Linked DNA regions of Homo sapiens: region 1 is linked to region 2. The links come from fine-mapping of genetic effects on plasma protein levels. A gene starts in region 2. The other region holds a variant in brackets. All regions are shown on one strand. Distances are between the middles of the regions.

Region 1 (12,131 bases), 39 kb after region 2:
GTTACTTCCCAAATCCAAGTTTCTTTCTGGCTGTAGGTGAAACAGCACCATGGAGTGGTGGTTCTTTGAGACCATAAGGATCCTTCAGTTTCCCAAGATGCTTGTCTCCCAGGTGGTGCCAGGATTGAGTCTCAGTAGGCCGTAAACATTCTAGAAGTCCAGCAGCTTCTAGATAACAGAATACATGGCAGAGCAGTGAATCCCATTGTCCTTGGAACACCGTTAATTTTTTTTCTCTGTAATTTCTTGAGCAGAAGCATCGGTGTGTGGAACACCTTGATTGTGACTAATAGGTGGATTAGGAGTCTGGTAGAAGCATGGGGTCGGGGGAGTGGGGACGGGCCACAGGGGGCACAGTGGGTGCTTAGAGGATGCATAACAGAACCCAGAGTAATACCATTGAAGTGAATATAAAATTCTGCCTCCTCCAAGATGGAAGGAGCAGCTAGTTGGGTCAACCCTCAACAACGGCACATCACTAGTTTACTTTTTATTTTTAAATTAGCACGTTATTGAAAGTGTTTGTAAAGATAATTAGCCATAGAAAATAAAATGGGTAAAATCATCTCTGTAGAGCGTATGGATGTGCATCTGGGAAGTCCAAAGGATGAATGAAAAAATTAATACAAAAAATCAAACAAAAATGATTTAATAGAGTATAACATGAGATTGCTATTGCTGCAAATTGGTGTACGGCAATACCCATGGTCATGTCAGTCTGAGTAAGAGGAAATCCATATTGTTGAGTCTATATGTGGCTTTTGTTCTGACAGCCATTGCTAGTTTATTATTTCACTGAACAAGTGCTTCAGGAGTTGGGGTGAGGGATAGGCTGACTGACATACGTAGAGCAAAATGTAGAAAGGCTGTACCAACAAGATACAATTCATGGTGAACAGCTAGAGTCACTTGGTTACCTTGTACCATTGTTTATTCTATCCAGGGCTCAGTAGCAAGGCCAGAACAAGTCTCAAAAGGAAGGTTTTGCTCCAACATTCTAAGGGACCCCTGTGTTTTTCCTATTGGGATTTGCTACTAGTTTTCTTCGGTGCCCTGAAATTGCACAGGCTTGATGTACCATTGCATCAGCTGGGTCATTAAAGCCAAGTTGTAGATCTGCTTATACCACCACTTGAACTCGCTGGATGGTCTTTTCTTTTTGGGAGTTGAAGCTAAAGCTGGTAACCTTTGGGTCATTCAGTAAAGGGTGGAAGCAGCATAAAAAGTCTGTTTCTCATTTGTACTTGAGGCTACAAAGAAAAGCACTTTGCAGAAGTATGCCAGTTATCTACAGATTAATTCACCAAGATTTTTCACTGAGGAAACACTGCCCTGTATTTTCATGGATTTATTTTCTACCTGCTGGCTTACTTATGCTTTGCAGGCATCTAAGAGTACATGTTGCCTCCTGCTTTTCTGGTCCTAAAAGCAGACGTAACCAGTGTATTGGACTAATGTAGTGTCCTGTAGGAGGAGATGATCCGTATCCTTGACAACGAAATTGTAGTACAAAGATAGACAGTGTGCATAACCGTGAGATAAGCCTGTGAAGGCTCGCTGATGTCCCATCCCATTGATAGCAAATCCTTTCTCATGTTCTCTGTCCTTTAGGGTAGAGCAAAAAGTATTTGCCATATAAGCAGGTATATACAGGTTGCTAGAGATTGTGATGCTCTGTTGTAGTAAATCCATCACATTTTGAGGAACAGTGCAGTTGGAGTCACCACCTGAATAAGCTTTTGCTAGTTATCATGAGCATTAGCCTTCTGCATTCTCCAGATAGGCCGGTTAAATGGGAATGAGAGGCATGTCCACTCCCTGCTCTTTCTGTCCTTGATGGTGGCATTTCTGAGTAATTCCCAGGGAATAGATAATGCCCTTGGTTTTATTTTTTTATTAGAGTGGGTCCCCAGGGGCTTCCAATGATTTCTTCCTTCCATAAGAGCCCTTACTCAGGGAGTATGAGTGAGAACTGGGGGTTGCTCAGTATATCTGTTCAGAAACCGGAAATTACCACATGGTGGAACTAGGCTCCCATTGGGCCTGTCAGAATCCATTTCTACTCAATTCTTTAATTGGCTGAGTAATTTTATATAGCATTCATGTGGTGTACTTGTTTGTACTTTGCAAAATTGATATGCATTTCGGTCCTTTTTTTGCTATTCAGTTTATTCATGAATATTAAAGTTCCTATTCTTGGCCCATTTTTCTTTTTTTTTATTATACTTTAAGTTCTGGGATACATGTACAGAACGTGCATGTTTGTTATATAGATATACACGTGTCTTGGCCCATTTTTCTACTGGATTGTCTGACATTTTCTAAATTATTTATAGTTATTGACTATTGCTCCCTCTTTCTTATATATTATGTAGTCTTTACCTTTTGTTTTTAAGGCCTTTGATTGTAATTATATTCTCAACTGCTTTTCATAATTTTTACCAATCAGAAACATAAAAGTTTAATTATCAGTGAAGTTGAAGTTTTGTTATGTACACATTTGCCTTTTGTAAATTGCAAGATTATAACCTTTGTCCATTTTTTACTGGGCTGTTGTTCTGTTACCAAAAATAATTACCATTGTAGTTTAACCTCTTTCCTCATCATAACCTGCAGTTACTGTCTCCTGTGTGTATATGAACACACACTTACATATATACTTGTGATATATGTACACATTTTTTGTATAACATTTAACCAAGTTATTTTATGTAGTCAAATTTGTCAATATTTTCCTCTGTGGATTTTAGTTTTGTGTCATGCTTAGCTAATATTTTATATCTCTTACTCCAAGATCATGTATAAGATCATATAATAAAAACATTTATATTTCTTAGAGCAGTTTAATATTTTCAATTTTACTATTTAAATTAATGGTTTATTAAAAATGTATTTTGCTATATGCTGGGAGGTAGGGTTCTTTCTCCCCTGCCCAAATGGTTAGTCAGTTTTCCTGGTGTCATTTATTAAATAATTTATTTTTTCTCACTTGCTATGATTTTTTCCTAAAGAACAATAACACTTTAGAGTTGAGATAAATACCTGCCAATAGTCTATCGATGCCCATACTACAGTTTGTATTATCAATACGCTTAAGAAAATAAAGCCCCTATAAGGCAGTTCAAGAAAATCTGTTGAGGTTGAGAGGGAATATATAGCTAATTATAAGCAGCCATAAGTTAAACACGGCAAACAAAATTTGTTTGTCTTATGAAAGGAAAAATCAACCCCCAAAAAGCAAAAATAAATTCCTATTAAATTAGCCAAATGCTAAGAGTTGCTATATGCTTTGATTCTTCTCTAGTGTTTCTGTTTTTCAGCTTTCACTTAAAAGCAGTATTTATTACATCATTCGCGGTGACCAAAATTATCCTGCATTTTGTAATACTTTATCATTCCCTTGAGCATGTAAATAATGAATAGTTTTAAAGCATTTAAGCTATATAAGTAAACCACTCATTTAAATAAAAAGAATGAGGGGGTTAGATTGTTAAGAGTTCTTTGGATTTTCAGCTTATTTCTACTTGACGTTTTATTTATGTACCATGACATTTTATTTATGTCCCCACATACATAAAACTGTAGGTCCTCCCCTTTTGTGTAGAGCCTTTTTTAAAAAAATTGCAATAGTCATAGACTTCCGGATTGTGAGTTTAACATGACTTTTAAGCCCTGGACTTTTTATTTTAAAATCTTTTCTAAACCTCACAAAATATATATATAAGTATATAGTACAATGAACCTTTCACCTGGATTTGCCAGTTGTGGGCATTTTTCAACTTTTGTTTAATGTGTTTTTTACTTTCTGTATTCAAATTTCTCCAGTTGTCCCTATGATTTTCTTTATAGTGCTTGCTTTTTTCCTGATTCAGAATCCAGTCAAAAATCATACAGTGTCTTTTGGGTATTTTAATTCCTTAATTTAGAAAGCACCTCTGTCTTTGTCAACTTTTTTTTTCCCTTTTGTGACATTGACGTCTTTAAATGCCCAGGCAAGTTATCTCGTAGATTGTCCCACAGTCTAGACTGGTCTAATTTCTTTTTGTGATTAGATTCATGTTAAATATTTTGGCAAGAAAAATCCTCAGATCATATTGTGGCTTTCTCGCTGCAGCATGCCACAAGGTTCATAATGTCAGTTTTTTCCATTCTCACTGCTAAATTTGGTCATTTGTTTTCAGACAACAGATTTATATATGATAAAGTTATATCTTTTGTAATTAATGTCATCTGTGTGGTGGTAATTTAAGTTGTATGAATGTCCTGTGATTTTAGCATTTTTTGATGACCTTGCTGAAATCAGTTATTACATGGATAATTGAAAAATGATTTTTTGTAATTCTATTCCTCTCATTTATTAACAATAACTTATTTATATTATATTCTAATGAAATATGTAATTGTTACTTATTTCCTCACAATTTTTATGCTAGTAGTGTTAAAGTCTGTGTGCCCTTGTATTTACTTAATAATATCCTGATGGGATAAGGAAGAAGATAGTATTTTTGGGTCATAAGTGCATTTTCACAAGTTAACATTCTCACACAATTTCCTCTTGAAAATTTTTGTTACTAATTAGATTTAAGTAAACCATTTAGTTATTCTTTTTTCCAGTTAATATTTTCTATTTTCATCTTTGTTTTTCTGTCTCTTTTCAACTGCCCAATTGCTTGTACATATTAATTTTTAACTCTTTCTGTTACCTTAACTTTTGTGACAATTAATACATGAATTTTCTATTATAATAGCTGTGGAAATACAAAGAACTCTGAATCAACTTGGAACACCTCAAGATTCACCTGAATTGAGGCAACAGTTGTAAGTATCTAGTTAAATAAATAAAAGAGAAAGAAAAAACTCTATTGCTATTATTCTGTTGCTTTTACAGTATGTAGTATATTATGTTTACTGGAAGAAAAAATGGAAAAACAATGGAGTTTTTCTGCTACCTTATCCATACATTTGTACCAAGCTTTTGTGTAGATTTTTCCCTGTCTGGAGTAGGCAGGTGTTTTTATATTAAAGATCTGGAAGACTGAGGTGGGCAGATCACAAGTTCAGGAGTTCGAGACCAACCTGGCCAATATGGTGAAACCCCGTCTCTACTGAAAATAAAAAAATTAGCCAGGCGTGGTGGCGAGCTTCTGTAGTCCTAGCTACTCAGGAGCCTGAGGCAGGTGAATCTCTTGAACCCGGGTGGCGGAGGTTGCAGTGAGCCGAGATCACACCACTGCACTTCAGCCTGGGCGACTGAGCAAGACTCTGTCTTAAAAAAAAAAAAAAAATTCCTTGATAGGCTTACCCTATCAAAGCAGAATTTCTTTAGTTGCATTTCTTACAGTTTTTAGGTAGGTTGTTTTTGACAGCTGTTGAAAAATTATACTCTAGTATCTCAATTTATGTGATTTACTTTCCATAGCTAAAAATCCCCGCAGTCACCAGAGTTTTATTTGGTTTAGATCCAATACATAACCAGCTACGTGAGCTGTCTCCCCACAAGTTTATACCTACATCCTTGAATTTCAGAGAGCATTAGCTTCCGTTTAAAAAAAAGTTATAATGAATTATATAGTACATATTCCAGTAAATTAATATGCTGTTAGAAGACCAGCAGTCATAGTGATAATATTTTGTCTGTGGTATGTTGTGGATTTTACAGAGTATTTTTACATATTTTATCATTTAAACCTTACAGAATTAGAGTAAGAGAAATAGACCAAAAGAACTGTTTCCATTTTGTTCATGTCTCTTACGGGTTTAACGAGTTACCCAATGTCATTTAGAACTTAACTCTTAAATTTTATTTCAGTACTGTTACAGCTGTAAATTTCAAGTCACATATATCTAGTAAGCAATACTTCTAAACAACATTAACTATAGAGGGAAAACTGCAAAGAGGACGATATTAAAAGATAGGTAATAGGAATTCATATTTTTAGGAAGTACAATTTGAAGGACTTACAATTATCTCTAATTTATATTTTATTTTTCCACAGTGGGTAAGTGTCAGAATGGTAAAAATGCTCCAAATCTAAATAATAAACCACAATTCATTAAACTAAAGTAAAATGGAATAGAAGTACATAATTCATAAAAGTTCTAATATTTTGATAGAGTTAATAATGAAGATTCTGAATATATATCCGTAGTCACTAAGGATTTTTTTTTTTTTTTTTTTTTTTTGAGACAGGATCTCATGCTGTCACCCAGGCTGGAGTGCAGTGACATTATCACGGTTCACTGCAGCCTGGACCTCCTAGGCTCA[A/G]TCGATTCTCCCACCTCAGCCTACTGTGTAGCTGGGAATACAGGCACATCCACCATGCCTGGCTAATTTTTGTATTTTTTGTAGAGATGGTGTTTTGCCATGTTGCCGGCACTGGTCTTCAATTCTGGGCTCAGACAGTCCACCCACCTCACCCTCCCAGAGTGCTGTGATTACAGGCATGAGCCACCATGTCCAGCCTAAGGTCTTCTTTTTAAAACTTTGACTATATTATGATTTCCAGAGATTTACAAAAATGCATTAAAGATAGGGTATTTGGTAAATAGAGATAGAAATAGATTTTAATTACCCTTTGTCAGTCAAATACAGATCCCTATTCTTAAGCATATTCTTATACAATATCTCATTATTTTAAAGGACCCCAAGTGTGACCAGACCATATTTAAAATGAGATGAAATATATAAGAGGTACTGATGTTGTGATTTGTAAAACATCACAATTAATATGAGCTTTTTTTTAGTGTCATGTTTTTAAGTTGGAAATCTTTTCAATTTATAAGATAGCTAGATAAAATATGGATATGTAGTCAGCACTCTGTATCCATAGATTATATATCCCCAGATTCAACCAACTGCAGGTCAAAAATATTCAAGAAAAAAAAAAAAACAACACAATAATAAAAAAAAAAACTGAACTATAAAATATAGCAACTATTTACATAGCATTTACATTATTGTATTGGGTATTATAAATAATCTAGAGATGATTTAAAGATATGGGAGGATATGCATAGGTTATATGCAAATGCTATACCTTTTTATATCAGGGACTTGAGCATCAGCGGATTTTGGTATCCACAGGGGTCCTGGAACCAATCTGCAGATACTGAGGGATGACTATAATTTACTTCTTTTATTTATTGTGTTCTTTCCCTTTACAAGGAAATGCCATTATTTTTTCCAGCGTAAACTTAAATAATAGTAAATTTGTACCAATATTGCCTCTTTCCTTTTTATTTTTATTTTTTGAGACAAGAGTTTTCCTCTGTTGCTCAGGCTGGAGTGCAGTGGTGCAATCTCAGCTCATTGCATCCTCCACCTCCCATGTTCAAGTGATTCTTCTGCCTCAGCCACCCAAGTAGCTGGGATCACAGGCATGCTCCACCACACCTACCTAATTTTTGTTATTTTTGGTAGAGATGGGGTTTCGCCATGTTGGCCAGGCACGTCTCAAATTCCTGGCCTCAAGTGATCCGCCTGCCTCGGCCTCTCAAAGTGTTGGGATGACAGGTGTGAGCCAGCATGCCTGGCCCCTCCCCCCCGCCTTTTTTTTAAGTATCTATAGCATATACATGTTCACATAGAGAAATAAGAGAGGCCAGATATAACTAGATCTGGGAACTGGGCAAAGTCTAAGGTAACAAATCTTTTCTTGCTTACCTGACCTTCCAGGTGTGAGATGCAGATAAAGGGCTTCCACATCCCCAGTATCTCAAACATAAAGGATCAGACATCTAACAGTCTCTCCTTCAGGTTCCCTCTGATTCAAGTCATCTGTGTTTCTAAATGGCCGTTGAATTGATTTCTCTAAGCTTGCCTACCCTGTGTGAGTGAAGAACCTGACATATAATATTTGCTCATTATTTATCAAAGAATAGGATATGAAATTTTTTTTGATAGAGAAAGTTGAGAGCCAGTTTATGAAAAGGCAATTTTTGTACAACTGTTTATCAGTGTTGATTCAAAAGGCAGAGTTGAAGCTTAAAGAAGTATATTAGTCCTTTGGCTGTAATGCGTGTTTTCTCACTTTAGGCAACAGAAGCAGCAGTATACTAACCAGCTTGCCAAAGAAACAGATAAGTACATTAAAGAGTTTGGATCTCTGCCCACCACCCCCAGTGAACAGGTATCAAGCTTTAAGACACATTGTTGATGTATTGAATGTGAAAAAAACCCAGTGCACTGTAGGATCTTTGAACTGTTACGCTAGAAAGGAAATTATGCTAGAAAGGAAATCAAAAATAATTCTGTTTGAGATTAGTTCACAGAACACAAAACTATATTTAATTGCTCAGGTAGTATCCTGTGGTTCAATAAAGCAAAAATTATTTCCATGCATTTGCCCTGACCCATAATTAAGTTAGTTCTCAGAAAATGCTTCCTGAGTAATTATTTCCTGGCCTTCCGGGGCTGACTGCGTGGAACATGCAGGCTCATTCAAGATGTGAGGTGTCCTGGGGGCACATATTTATTTCCCTGCTTATTTAATGGAAGTTATTACTTAGCTAAAAGTATAAGGCTTTATTTGCCTGAAAAAGAATTACTTTAAAATAGCCTCAAAATAATAAGCTAGTTTTTAGCAGCGTGAAAACCTGAGGTGAGAAATCCAGCATAATGGGTCTTTTGCCTCAAGTTAAATATGCACAGTATTTGACATACTATCAGAATGTTACTGAGAGTTAATCTGTAAGGCCCTGTAATTGGGGAGTAAGTGAAAACTTCAGGGTTAAATAAAGAGCCAACTACCGCAAATTCAGTTGAACTTCACAGCTAGATTCTAGTTGGCTTTTTCTTCTCTTTCCTCTAGCGTCAAAGGAAAATACAGAAGGATCGCTTAGTGGCAGAGTTCACAACATCACTGACAAACTTCCAGAAGGTCCAGAGGCAGGCTGCTGAGCGAGAGAAAGAGTTTGTTGCTCGAGTAAGAGCCAGTTCCAGAGTGTCTGTAAGTATTTTAAAAGACATTCTAGAAATGAACATGGTTACTTGCTAAGGGTCCCATAAAAGTCTATAGTAGCATAATTTTTTAAGTCATAAAGATCTGTGAATATCTTGGAAATCAGCTCTTGAATATTTATTTTTATGCTTTCCTGCTCCATTTTTAGAAAAGGATGATAATTTTGTATTACGGTGGTGATTTTTTGTGTCATAGTACAGAAGATTACAGAGTATATAAAAATATAGAGACATATTTTGTCAAAAAAGATTAGGGATCAAATCCTGAGTAGTATTCTCACATCGTCTTGGTACTGAGGCTTTCTGCTTGTGTACACGCTAGTGTAGAAAGCACTTTCCTCCTGGATTACACCAAGATGACGGAGATGAATGGCGCAAGTATGTTGTATCAATATTGAAAATGAACATGAGCCTGGAGAAAATAAATGAAAGGAAGCTTTACAATAGAATTTTGAATTAATCTAATTTTAAATTCCCTTAGAAACTATCATGAGTTATTTTCTTATTCATTAACATATGGATTCCAAGACTACATTAAGCTTTAACTAAATAATACTTATTTGATCCTTGAGAATATTTAGTGAATTCCTTTCTTGTCTACTTAGAATATAAAATTACTTATAATTATATTATTACTTGAAGCAGTTGACCTGAAAAATTAGAACAAGAACTTCTTTCTCTCTGTCTCTACACACACACACACATACACACAGACACGTACATAAATCAGTTTAGTTTATTATAAGGGAAAATATGAGTGTTTATTTTTTCTCATTTTTGCTTTTTTTGCCCCTTCTCATTCCATCCTGTTACTAAATTATTCAGGGCAGTTTTCCTGAGGACAGCTCAAAAGAAAGGAATCTTGTATCCTGGGAAAGGTAAGAAATACAAAACATTTTACAGATCAAAAGGTAATTTTTCAAAGTTTATACATTAAGGTCCCTGGAACAGAATTAAAGCTTTCAATATATTATATCATAAATATCCTAAGTTGTTTATATGTTGAAAACAGAGTAAATTTGAAAAAAATTTTAAGTAATTATAAAGTATTTATTACAAAATATATAAAGTTTTCCAAATAAATGTTTATGGACTTAATTATTAATATAGACATTCCCTTATATGAGGTTTAAATCAGCTGAGAAGAAATACCCAGTTGACAGATACAGCTTCCAATAATTAAGTAATAACTCTAAACTCACATTAGCTAAAATGATATAAGTGAAATGAAAAATGAATAAATTTTATTAATATATCTGTTATATTCTTAGAATTTTTTTGAGTAGTTCTGTGACTTTGGAGAATAAAATATCCTATTTAATGAATATATCTTAAATAGGAAATGAGTCCCATTGTTTTGAATACCAATCTTTGTTTTTTTCCACATTCATTTTTTTCTGTTAGCCAAACTCAACCTCAAGTGCAGGTGCAGGATGAAGAAATTACAGAGGATGACCTCCGTCTTATTCATGAGAGAGAATCTTCTATCAGGCAACTTGAAGTAAGGCTTACATTGTAGACTTGGGCTGCTGCTCTGGTCTTAGTGAGTTTGTTCTCAAGATGCTTAGGTAATGCTGGGAGAATGCATGAGACAGAAAAATTTTGTTTTCTTTTTGAGACAGTCTCCCTCTGTCACCCAGGCTGGAGTGCGGTGGTGGAATCTCGGCTCACTGCAACCTCCGCCTCCCAGCTTCAAGCGATTCTTGTGCCTCAGCTTGCTGAGTAGCTGGGATTACAGGCACGTGTCACCCCACCTGGCTAATTTTTTGTACTTTTAGCAGAGAAAGGGTTTCACCATGTTGGCCAGGCTGTTCTCAAACTCCTGGTCTCAAGTGATCTGCCTGCCTTGGCCTCCTAAAGTACTAGGATTATAGATGTGAGCCACCATGTCTGGCCCAGAGAAAGAAAATTAATGTATCAGTTTGGTAGCATTTGTAATGTATGAGTTGGAATAATTCCTTTTTTAAAAAAATAATATTGTCCTTACTGTTTGTGCTAGGACGAGGGATCATACTCCCTCCTACTGCAGCTTTTTAAAAATTATTATTGTTATATCAAGCCATCTATGGACCACCTTAGTATTGAGAAAATACCAGTGTAGAGATAAATGTCTGTCCAAGAGTCTGGATGTCTTCCCAGAGCACATGATACACATCATACCTGCATGAGTAAGACCTTTTATAAGGCCTTCAAAGAATTTTATTTCTCTTTACTATGTTTATGACATCAAAGAGATCTAAAGGATTTATTAAGTCATAGTTCTTATGGAACCTACTTAGTTCCTAGAAAGAAGGCTAATAATAGCTAACAATGGCTACAATTTATTGAAGACCTTCCATGTGCCAGGCACTTGTGGGATGAATTCTTTATGTTAATTATCTCATTTAGTCCTTATAAAAACTTTATGAAGCAGTTAATTGTGTCATTGAAGAAAAGTAAATTTATATTTAATCACCAAGTTTATAACTTCTTTATTCAGTAGTGACATTTCACTAATCCACTGCATGTTCAAATTATTAATGTGAGACTTTAAATTTACACCTAATGTTTTATTACTTTAAATTGTCAAATTGATGTGTAAATTTTACTAGAAATACATGCTAAGAATATTTTATACCCTTGTAAGTAGATACTGCTTGTGATAACAAAACTATCAGGTTGTATAAAATGAACTCAGCAATCCATGGCTCTTCTCTATTATAGATCCTTCATTTCCATTCATTTCCATCCTGCCTCGCTCACTTGGTATTTTTAATGCCACAAACTGATTTTAGAGAACTGGTGGCTATTGTTCAAATTCTTCTTAATTATTGTCAAATATTTTCCTGATATTTCCAAAGTTTATGTATTATATTTGTGTATTATAGATGCATGCTCACCCATGTGTGAGTAGTGGTTTGGGTTTTTAAAATTTTTCCTCTTTTATGGAATGGGGACTGAATTTCTGATTATAATAATATATGCGTTTTCTCTTAGGCTGATATTATGGATATTAATGAAATATTTAAAGATTTGGGAATGATGATTCATGAACAAGGAGATGTAATAGGTAAGACCTGCTGACTTAGATTTTGGAGGTGAGAGCAAGCTACATGCACTTTACCTGCTGTAACTTTCTCACAGAAGAGTAACCACTTTCTGTCCCTTTTTTGGTTTCCCTGGAACCAAAAGC
Region 2 (12,131 bases):
TTGTAAACAAACAAGTTAACGGCATGATTCTTGCCAAGATAATTGATGTGCATATTGAGCATATTAAGTACTCTAAGTGCCGAGACAGCTTCCTCAAACACGTGAAGGAAAACGATCAGAAAAGGATCTCAAGGAGAAAGTCACCTGAGTTCAATTAAAGCAGCAGCCTGCTCCATCCAGAGAAGCACACTGTGTGAGAACCAATAAGAAGGAGGCTGCTAGAACTTATTTCCTATGAATTCATGCCATAATAGGTGTAAAAAAAATACCTGTAAATTGTAAAAACATTTCTCTTCATTGAGTAGACGTGTGGTGGCCCCTCCCCCGGAGCAATATTTAAAGCAAAAATAAATGAATAAATATACACTTATACAGTCCAACAGACCTACTTCTAGATATTCACTCAAATGATTGAAAACTTCTATTTTTACCAAAATCTGTATTTAAGTATTTATAGAAGTTTTATTCATAATTGCCAAAAATTGGAAACAACCAACAGGTGAATGGATAAATAAGCTGTGTTATATCCAAACAATGGAATATTATTCAGCCACAAAAAAAAACAAACTATAGATTTATACAACAATGTGGATGTATCTTAAATGCATTCTGCTAAGTGAAAGAAATCAGACCCAAAAGGTTATATATTGTATGATTGAATTTATAGGACATTCTGGAAAAGGCAAAACTCTGGTGATAGAAAACATAAGTGGTTGCCAAGGGTGGGAGGAGGGGGATGGGTTGAATAAGGGTTGTTGTGAAAGGGAATTTTCAGTATGGTAGAACTGTTCTCTATGGTATTGGAGTTATGGATACATTACTCTATATATCTGTCAAAAATCCACAGAACTATATACCACAAACAATGAGCTTTATACAAATTTAAAAAATCAATCAGTATATTTGTGGATCATAGGATAAAATGCAGATCTATGACAACTGAATTTAACTGCAAAGTCAACATAACCTAATTTCACTGAAGGGGATGGGTAAAGAGCCGACCTTGGTGATTTTTAGAAAACATTGTTTTGACTCAATATTATAAGGCTAAAGACAAAAAGAATTGTACATAAACACTGCACTAAAGATTTTTTTCTCACACAGAGTAGGAGTTAGCAATTCTGAAGCTATTAGGTTGGTGCAAAGGTAATTGCGGTTTAATGGCAAAAACCACAATTACCTTTGCACCAACCTAATTTTTTACATTATAGAAATAAGAACATAAATGGTAGATAATGGAAGCTAGGTTTCTCACTTCTAGCGAAAGAAGCTAAAAATTAGGACAAGGGAAGGCTAGAATGACCCCTATAATGTTGGATTAGAATTGGGAATGCCTAGATGAACTCGTGTTTATATATATAGATAAAATCTGATATAGCTATGGATATGTAAAACAACTGGAAAACAACTTGGCAGTTTCTTGTAAAATTAAATTTATAGACATACTTTATACAAGGCTTATACTGCATATAATGTATACTGTATACATTTCTCTATGGATCAATTCCCTGATTCCTTACCCCAACTCACACAAACCCCACCTCTGCCCAGTCCAAGCACTTTTATTTTTACCAAATATATTTTGGGGCATGCAGCCAACATGGGGATGGCATGAAGCCTGGAGTAAATATCCTACATACATGAATTAGTATATATAAATTTATTTCCTAGCTCTGTCCATTGAGGGGAGCGTAGAAGCACTGACACCCTAGTAACAATGAGAAGGTTAGTGCCTTGATCTTGATTTCTTTTCTTTTCTTCTTTTTGGTAGGGTGGGGGACAGGGTCTCACTCTGTTGTCCACACTGCAGTGCAGTGGCATGATCTTGGCTCACTGCAGCCTTGACCTCTTGGGCTCAGGCAATCCTCCCACCTCAGCCTCCTGAGTAGCTGGGACTATAGCTACTGTGCACATCACCACACCCAGCTAATTTTTGTAGAGATGGGTGTAATAGCCAAGGTTCTCTAGTGGAACAGAATTAATGGAATACATATATATATATATATATATATATATATATATATATATATATATATATATGAGTTTATTAAGTATGAACTCACATGATCACAAGGTCCCATAGGCTGTCTGCAGGCTAAGGAGCAAGGAGAGCCAGTCCGAGTTCCAAAACTGAAGAACTTGGATGCTCAGGGGCAGGAAGCGTTCAGCACGGGAGAAAGATATAGGGTGGGAGGCTAGGCTAGTCTAGCCTTTTCACATTTTTCTGCCTGCTTTATATTTGCTGGCAGCTGATTAGATGGTGCCCACCAGATTAAGGGTGGGCCTGTGTTCTCCAGCCCACTGACTCAAATGTTAATCTCTGTTGGCGACATCTTCACAGACACACCCAAGATCAATACTTTGCATCCTTCAATCCAATCAAGTTGACACTCAGTATTAACCATCACAACAGGGTTTTGCCCCATTGCCTAGGCTGGCCTCGAACTTCTGGGCTCAAATGATCTGCCTGCCTTCGCCTTCCAAAGTGCTGGGTTTACAGGTGTGAGCCATGCTACTGTGCCTGGTGGTCCTGGCCTTTGATTTCTAAATAGCTTTTTCCAATAAAAAGAAGAAGTGCTTAATAGTAAAATGACTGATTCTAGAGCTGGAGCAGGGAGAATACAAGCTAATTTAGTTGGTACTGCTATACCAATGCTGATTTCTTAGTTTTGACAAGTGGACCATGGTTATGTAAGATGTTAACATTAAGGAAACATTAGGGGAACCTGGGTGAGGTATATACAGGAGTGCTGTACTATCTTTGCAGCTCTTCTATAAATCTAAAATTATTCCAAAATAAAGAATCGTTTAAAACATGGGGGAGAAGAAAAAATGTTTTCTAGCTAATGGGAACTACGTGAGCGAAGCACAGAAATAAGAAAACCCCTGGTTTGTGACTGGGGAGCTAGCTGCTGGGATGGAGGGGAGAGCAGACAGAGAAAGAGGAGTTATTTAAGCCAACATATTCCAAGCATAAATTTTGATGCTTGGAAAGGCAGGATCAGACCATGTGGTCCTTATATGTATAGGGACCATATGATGCATCATCTGAACTGAAGCACGTTTGAGAATGAAAGGGCATGCTCAGAAGACAGGCGGCCAGGACAACAAGCATAAACTAGGGCTGTCCTAGCAAACTAAATATATGGTCACCCTGTGTATATGCAGGGGGCTTGGACTTGATTTTGAGAGCAGTGTTTTCCATTATGCATATTTAAAAGTTTTACAGGCAAGTTCCACCATCAAATACACTCATAAAATACTGGGTAAAAGAAATTTTTACTTGTTTCTTTCCTGAACCACTTCTCAGCGTCTTTAATTTACAAATATGCTCTGTGAATCTTCAAGAATGCAATATAATATGTTTCCCAAACATTTCTTTGTAGACCAATTCCCTGATTCCTTATTTCAACCCACACAATTCCCCAGCTCTCCCCAATCTAATTATTTTGGTTTTTTTTCTTAAGAAATACAGTTCAGGGAATGCTGCAATCATGGAAATGGCATGAAGCCTGGAGCAAAGTTCTCAGATTAGAGCTTCAAATATTCAGTGGTGGCTTTGACAATAATAAAGTTGAGAAGACCTGGAGATAGAAGATCCAACAAGGAGGCTATTGCAGTGGATCAGGATGTCAACCGTGAGGGACAGAGAGAAGAGGGCACATATGAACAACACTTAGGAGGTAAAATTAGAAACGAAAATACCAGTCATCAGGAGGTAAAATTAGAAACAAATATACCGGTCATCATGCTATAATGGCCCATGTAAGATTTCCACGGGATATCTGTTTATTACCTCCATGTTCAAAAGCTAGGGCAAAATCAATTCTGTGCTTGATATATGACTAGGCACTTGTGTGATCTTAAACAGAAAACAAGTAGACTGTAGAGAGACATGGAAGGTGCTTAACAATAAGGCACAACTGAACTAACTCTTGTTTATTAAGTATTAATTTAAGCTTCCTTTTAATCTAGCATAGATTTTTTAAACCAGTTGTGGTTTTCCCACTGTATTATAAATAAAAACAAACCTTCATAAGTCAACTTGTCCTTCTCACTTACCAATAAGTCCCTGTTTGCTCTATTTACCTTTATGCGTCTTTTACTTCTTTGGCTTTCCCAGAAGATCACATAGTGGTCATGTAAAAAATATTTTTAGTTCAGTAACTATTAAATGAACCAGCAATTATCTCCTTCTATTCCCTGGAATTGCTATCCCAGACACTGGAGATACAGCAGTGGACAGTTCTCCATCCTACATGAGAGATGTTACATAGGAGGTATTTATGGTATTTATATTAATAAGGACACCACAAGTGTGCAGATAACATTCCCCACTCAACAACTTCTGGTTTCCTTCAAAATCTCTCCAAGAAGGCCCAAATCTCGCAAATTACTATTTCTGAAAATCCAAATTACAAGCTTTCAGTCATAGGTAACTTCTGCACATGGAAATGATTTATTTTGGGAGATGTGACATTATCACTCATCAAATTAGGAGACTTTTAAAGCCCTACCACTTTCAAGACACCTGGCTGAATTTAACTTGGTAGCAGCCAGATTCACAGATGGAATACTGTGTCAGGAACTCTTAGTAATTCATTTATCTTAATACTTCTAAATTTTGCAAGTTTGTCTAGACTATAATTCTTTTTTTTCCCATTTGAATACCAAAGGATGAAATCTTATTCTAAGTTTTCAAAAGACCTGGAAGGAATCCACTCATAACATATTTTAAAACAAGGAATTGGAATGAGCCCAAGATGAGGGCTCAGACAGCTAAGTTTTGGGCCCAGCATAGTCAGTAACTATCAGGGTAACTTGAAGAGGCCACTTAATCTCAGGTTCTTCTGTAGTGCATTGTACCTTCCCTCCCCGGAGCCCAGAGTTCTATCAAAGGTAATATGAATGGGTATTTGGAAAGTGCACTAAACCTCACATGGATGTAAGATCCTTTCATGTGTTCCTTCAATGATTGAAATGTTTCTTCCTACGTTCACCAGCCACTTCCTAATTCTCAAGTACAATGCACTACTTTCAGTTCTTTATTTACTTGAACTTTGTGTAACAGGTGACATCATGGACAATTCCCTCCTTTTTTCCTTCATTCTCTAGTTTACCTTTTCCTGGTTTATTTCCTATCTTGTGGGTTACTCGTTTTCAGGGTTATTCTTTCTCTGTCCATCTCTCTTAAGCAGACAACATTCCACACTTAGTGTTGGTGAGTTCCAATCAGAATTCTATCCTGGGTTTTGTTTTTTTCCACCTAAGTGCGTCTGGACTTTTGATATCACCTATCCGGGTAATCATTTTAGAAAATAGTGTTGCCTTAATATAGGCAAAGGCTAAGCCAATCTATCTTCTAATTAATTTGGAGAGGGCTTTCTTTCATTTGTAGCAATTGATGCTTTTCATCTAACAATTACAATATATTTGCATATTTATCATTGGAACTGTCTCTGCTTGTTTTAAACCCTGTGAAAACTACGCCCTGCTTTTCAGGAATGCTTAGAATGACTTGTATGTACTAGGAAAACTTGTTTACAAGTGAGCACCCAGAGATGACTCTTCACTTATTCCTTCATTGTTCCTGCTAGGATTGTGTACTCGCCTTTGCATTTTTCGATAGAGCTGTCAACGCGATCTACTGCAGTTAAAGGTTAGCAAACAAGACAGGCAAGAGCTAATGGGGCGGGGTGAAGACCCGCGTGCAAGAAGGCTGGCTTCACCAGATAAAGAAGACAACTGTCCTCCATTCTGTCCTTTTTTGCACGCAGGCTAAGAGGCGTTCACCATCTCTACGTCAGGCTTCAAAGAACAGCTCCCTTGCAATTTTGCTGATACCCCCATTCCTTAGCTTGGAACCGGAGGGGCGGTGAGGGCCGCTGTCACTCAGCCCCGCGGGCCAATAGAAAAGGGGTGAACCCCGCCTTCTTCCTGAGTTGTGCTGCGGGCATGCGCACTGGGCGTCCCCACGCCACCGCCCATCAGCTGAGAATTGCAGCTGAGGGCTCCGGGGTAGGTGGGTGACGGCGGTCGGAGGTGTAGGAGGGAGCCGTGGAGGTCCAGGTAAGAGGACCCTGGGGAGGGGGCTCCCTGGCCGGGCGACAGGGAGGCGCGGTGCCCCTGCGGCTGCTGCGCCTTCTTGTTTGTGCGCGTGGTCAGGTGGCCGCCGCCCTGCGCTCTGCAGCAGGCACTCGGGAGGCTAGGAAGGGCGGGACTGCCCCAGCTCCCGGAGCGCCTGCGGCTCCCCACGCCCCCCGGCCGGGTGCAAGGGCGCGGCGCGTTCCGCATTCCGGGTGCGCGCGGCTGTGGTCAGGTGGGCCTACCCAGCCACGCACCCGCCGCGGTCCCCTGGGCAGAGCTCCGGAGGCGCACGGCTGGCGGAGCGCACCCCGGGGAGGGCGCCAGAGCCGGCTGGGGCCCAGCTCAGGAATCCAGACACGACCAAATGACCTCTTCCTCTTTTCAACTCACGGATTGAAAAACACACTAAACTTCCCGAATATAGAGGAACTGAAAAATGTATGGCTGTAGCAGGCGAACCGTGTATGTTTATTTATTCAGAGGATCGTAGTATTGTTTTTTTAATTTGGCTTGATGACTTTAACATACTTTGACATTCTTTGAGTATACACCTTTAATTAATTTACATAAAAACCTTTAAACGTACATAAAATATTTCTAGTATTTCCTCCACCTTGTTTTCTAGTTACTTTCTTTAAATTCAGACAAAGAAAAAAAGTTGCATTTCTGATCAAATGCTGTGTGTTTTTTCCCACAAATTTCTTACATTTGTTTGGCTCTTATCTGTATACGTTAATTTTTGTTTACCTCAGATCGTTGTATTCTGACTATAATTATATATAATATATAAAACTTGCCCAGAATCTGGAAGAAAAGAAAGTAATTATGAAATGCTGTGCTATTTAATAATGTTGGAAGTGGACATTTCTTCTGCAGGTTCTCTGAGCACACCTGGGCAGAGGCTGATAACGGTGTTAAACTGTGTTTTGTGTTGTGGACAGGCCTTATAGGCTACTTTGAGAAGTTGGCCTCAGACTCGTGACTAGTTAAGAATTATGCTCTTAACTTCACAGTTTCTGTAGAGGTTAATATGATACCATATTAACTGATTAACATCATAATTTTTCCTCAGATATGTTACTTATGTTGCTCTTGATAACAAAATCAATCCTTATTTTGGTTATGACCCCAAACTTTAAGTGCTGATGATTGAAAAGTAAATTATAGAAAATATTCACAGTAAGTCTGAGTGAAGTTTGCTGTGATTCCATTTAATTTGCAAGTTTCATGTGTGAAAGTATGAAAAAAACAATCCTCGGTATTGTGAACTAAAACCAAGTAGTACAAAAGGTCAGTGATGAAAGAGCTAAGGCCAAAGAATACAGTTAATGTAGTTTTTGCAGAGGATACTTATGTAGACAGAGCACCCTCACATTCCTTGAGCATTTACTATGCACCAGGCACTGTAGATTACACAGGATGACAAGGTCATCTCTCTCCTGTTTATATTCCAGAAGTAGCTCCTGTTTGTATTCCAGAGGTGTAGGGATAAATAATAAACAGTGATTAATTCGACTTTTGAGTATTGTGAAGCAGTAAGTTAGATTGACAAAGAGTGACCAGTGGTGAGTTCTCACTTTCATATCAGAGTGGTCACAAAGGTTTCTCTAGCATGTGATGAGGCCTTGCTGGGGAGAAGGAGCCAGTCACGTGGAGATCATGGGAAGAGCCTTCTAGAAATAGGAAATGGCACCCAGCAAAGGCCCAAGGCAGCAAGAAGCCTGGGACCTTCGGTATCTGAAAGAAGGCACTGGAATTTTATGTTTTGGAAATGGTAATATTTACCCTCACGCTGGGTGTGTGTTCTTAGGAGGTGGGTACATTCATTCATTCTACAAATGTTTGTTAAGCACTTGTGATGTAGCCAGGCAGTGAGAATAGTGCAGTCCACAAAACAGACAAAAAAATGCTCACCCCCCACCCCTCAGAACTTACTTGGGGTAGAGGGTATAGAGAAGTCCAGTTGTTTATGCTGATGCTAATGATTAAGAAAGTGAAATTGACTACTTCTTTGCCCAGGGTAGATTTATAGAGCATGAGATATATGCTAAATGGAAATCTTAAGGATTCTACAGTATATCGGATTTTAACTGGGAGTAGTGTTTGACACTTCAAGATTAAATTTTAACATTCCTTTTGTTCATTCCTTTGTGTTCTTTAGAAGCCGTCTTGAGAAGACTCTCATCTGAGTGTTGCACTTTGATTCTCCCTTCCTGTTTTTCTCTTTATAGTGTTTGTATATCTTCATAGAAAGATGATTATTGCAATGTGGAGATTAGCACTGTGCAATAGATCTTTCTGTGATAATGGAAGTGGTCTATGAATGAGCTGTCCAAGCTGCTGGCCACTAGCCACACAGAATTTTTGAACATTTGAAAGGTGTCTAGTGTGACTGAGGAACTGATTTTTTTCATTTAACTTAATTTTAATTAATTTTAATTTTTTAAAAACGAGAGCTACAATGTAATTTAAGTGATACACAATATAAAATGGTGTAAATTGTCACATGAAAAAATGAAATGTAGAGTAAAAGTGTAGTTTCTTACTGCAATCAGTTATCTTGTTAGCAGCTTAAAATAACCTGTAATAAGATTTTTTTGCTTTTATTATTTTAATCGACAGATAATGATTTACATATTTGTGGATACATGTGATACATCAGTAGATGTGTACAATGTGTAATGATCAAATCAGGGTAATTAGCATATCCATTACCTCAAACATTTAACATTTCTTTGTGTTAAGAGCATTCACAATTCATTCTTTCTTCTAAGTATTTGAAAATATGCAATAAATTGTAATTAATTGTAGTCACCTTTTAGGGGTATAGAACACTAGACTTCATTCCTCCTACCTAGCTGTATTTTGGTGTTAGTTAACCAACCTTTGGCTATCCCCTTCCCGCCATCCTTCTCTGCTTCTAGTAACCACTATAATTTTAACAGCCCATTTAGTTAGTGGCTAGTCTGTTAGTACAGGTCTAGGTAATGAATTATATAATTATTATTCTGAGCAATTAAATAGGAATTCTGAGTGGGCTTTCAAAAGTATTCAACAAGAGTACTTTAGTGCGTAGCAGCTCTGGGCTAGGTAATGGAGACTGATGTGGAAAGCAGACATCTGAATAACTCAGCATCCATTTAGCCTATATGCAGAGATCATAAGCTTTTAATCAATTTGTAGTTACCTATCCTGTCTGTCTATGCTTGTATATATATTTTTTAAAGACAACCATTTGGTTCCTTTCCTTTGTGTGTCTCATTATCAAAAGAGCCAACTGTTGTTGCCTTTTAGATACCACTTATTAGCAGAATAATAGAGAAAAGGAGTAAGCTATTCCTCTGTGTTACCTTGATCAACTCATGTAGTTATCCCAAACATATTCCTTCATCTTAGGAGTGGGAATAGCAAAACTTCATATGGGGCATGCAGAAAAGTGGTAAATTTGGTTTTTCTTTTGTCTTTTTTTATTTTATGTTATGTTATGTTATGTTATGTTATGTTATGTTATGTTATGTTATGTTATGTTATGTTATTTTGAGACGAGTCTCGCTCTGTCGCCGGGCTGGAGTGCAGTGGCGTGATCTTGGCTCACTGCAACCTCCGCCTCCTGGGTTCAAGCGATTGTCCTGCCTCAGCCTCCTGAGTAGCTGGCACTACAGGCGCATGCCACCACACCCAGTTAATTTTTTTAGTAGAGATGAGATTTCACCATGTTGGCCAGGATGGTCTCAATCTCTTGACCTTGTCATCTGCCTGTCTTGGCCTTCCAAAGTTCCGGGATTACAGGCGTGAGCCACCGCGCCCAGCCCAAATTTGGTTTTTCTAACTGAGTTCACCTGCCCTCAATTTTGTTATACAAGGAAGCAGTATGGCTTAGTGTTTAAAAAATGTCGGCTCTGTGGTTATTTTCAAATATTTGCTCCTTTGCTTATAATGATAATGAGGCATAATGATATGCCTCAGTTTCTTCATGTAAAAAAATCACATTAGCAATTATACCCACATGATAGGCTTATAAGAATTAACTGAGAAAATAAATTTAAAAGTCATAAGCACAATGCTTAGGAAATGTAAGTCCTGGATGAGTGTTGGCCATTGTTAACTTTGTTTTATTTTACACATCTTTCTTCTCTATCTTTTGCAAATTGCTTTTCATTCTTCACACATGATTCCTGGCTAGATACAGTGGCTCAAACCTGTAATCCCAGCACTTTGGGAGGCTGAGACTGGAGGATCGCATGAGCCCAGGAGTTCAAGACCAGTCTGGGCAACAAAGTGAGACCCCCATCTCTATAAAAAAATCAAAAAATTAGTGGGATGTGGTGGCAGGTGCCTGTGGACCCAGCTACTCGGGATGCTGAGATGGGAGGATTGCCTGAGCCTGGAAGTCAGGGCTGCAGTGAGTCGTAATCACACCACTGCACTCCAGCCTGGGTGCTCCTGTCTCAAACAACAACAACGCCAAACAAAGAAAAAGTAAAACAAAACTCATAATTCCAGTCAATCTAAGTAGCACCTCTTTGGGTGAATGAAGCCACTTGCCAATTGTCTCACCAGCAGGAACTTTCTCACATTTAGTAGCTTGAGGAAAGGGATGAAGAAAATTGATTGTGTTTGTGACTAAGTGATTGATTTTCCAGAGAGGAAAAAAGGTGGCCTTGAAAGAAAACAGTGAGAAGACTTGGGCTACACTGGTGTGAGTTTTAAGGGTAAGGAAAATGCTGTAGAATACTGTCCTTGACTTGATGGAACTCTTTATGGGAGAGAGAGTAGGCCTCAGGTGTGCTTGCATGGTTTTGAGACAGGTGATGAGTTTCTCTTGGTCTTGTGCTGATGCTGGTCCTGCAGCTGCAAGAACAGATCATAACTTTCCTCTGTGTAGGGTGGAAAAGCATTTGTTCTCTGGATGTGCATTATCTCATTTTGATTCTGGCAGTGGGCCCAAATGCTAAGTGTCTTGCCCAAAGTAGAAATTTCCAGTTGCTACTTCCATGGTGTGCCGCACAGGCAATGGCTGAGTTCTTGTAGCTTCACAGACATGTAGACACGAGAGAAAGCCAAGGGTACGAGCTGGAGACATGGATGTGCGACTCATTCAGGTATAGATTAAAATGGAACCATGTATATGGAGGAGCATCCCCAGAGATTACATGAATAACAAACTGAACATTTTTTCATTCAATGTGTTTGTTTTGGCTTGTAAGCCAGTTTTTCCAGAGATCTACTTGATAGAGGGAAAGGAGAAAGGAAGATGTCATTGAACCAAGAGAAAATTGTCTTTCTCCATACCTTGGAATATTATTTGGCAATAATGAAGGAATATTATTTGGCAATAATGAAGGAATGAAGGACTGATATATGATACAGCACAGATGGACTTTGGAAGCATACTAAGAGAAAGAAGCTAGTCTCGAAGAACACATTGTATGATTCCATTCCTATGAAATGTCCAGAATAGCAAAGCTATAAAGATACAAAGTAGATTAGTAGTCACCTTTGGCCAGTGAGGTTGGGGAGAAATGGAGAGCGATTGCTAATGATTACAAACTTTCCTTTTAGCGTAATAGAAATGTTCTAAAAGTGATGATTGTACAATGTTGTAAATATATTAAAAACCATTGGCTTGTGTACTTCAAGTAGGTGTATTGTATTGCCATATCTCAATAAATTATATCTCAATAAAGCCATTTTATTTATATAAATTTAAGGGGTGCACATGCAGTTTTGTTACATGGTTATATTGCATAGCGTGAAGTCTGGGCTTTTAGTGTAATCATCACCTGAATAATGTACATTGTACGCATTAAGTAATTTCTCATCCCTCACCCTCCCATCCTTTTGAGTCTCCAATGTCTTCTTATTCCACTCTCTGTCCATGTGTACACATTATTTAGGTTCCACTTACAAGTGAGAACATGCAGCATTTGACTTTTTTCTGAGTCATTTCACTTAAGATAATGGCCTCCAGTTCATCTGTGTTGCTGTGAAAGACATAACTTCAGTCTTTTTTAAGGTTGAATAGTATTCCATTGCATTTATAT

Which allele goes with the higher level. Alleles are on the strand shown, and positions count from the first base shown. The strength of an association depends on the size of the effect and on how common the allele is.
As copies of G replace A in region 1, the plasma level of the protein whose gene starts at base 5,960 in region 2 goes down (weak association).

What was found. A credible set is the group of variants that fine-mapping cannot tell apart. PIP is the chance, under the fine-mapping model, that this variant and not a neighbour inherited with it causes the effect. Protein levels are from antibody-based Olink assays in UK Biobank. Linkage for the fine-mapping came from a reference panel and not from the study's own genotypes, which makes the PIPs less certain.
Region 1: its variant is the best candidate, but not a certain one, in a credible set for the plasma level of the STX7 protein (UK Biobank, PIP 0.61).

Annotation. Positions count from the first base shown.
Region 1 is chr6:132,468,280-132,480,410 of GRCh38, reverse strand. STX7 (syntaxin 7) reads left to right here. Exons shown (of 10, transcript NM_003569.3): 3 at 4,749-4,818; 4 at 8,036-8,129; 5 at 8,811-8,948; 6 at 9,785-9,837; 7 at 10,364-10,460; 8 at 11,936-12,008. Among named protein-coding and RNA genes, the nearest start is that of STX7, 39 kb to the left of the region's middle. The variant A/G (reference allele first, on the strand shown) is at 6,266.
Region 2 is chr6:132,506,945-132,519,075 of GRCh38, reverse strand. STX7 (syntaxin 7) reads left to right here and starts at 5,960. Exons shown (of 10, transcript NM_003569.3): 1 at 5,960-6,069. It also overlaps the pseudogene RPL21P66. RefSeq lists enhancers at 5,654-5,853, 6,211-6,712 and a silencer at 6,004-6,493.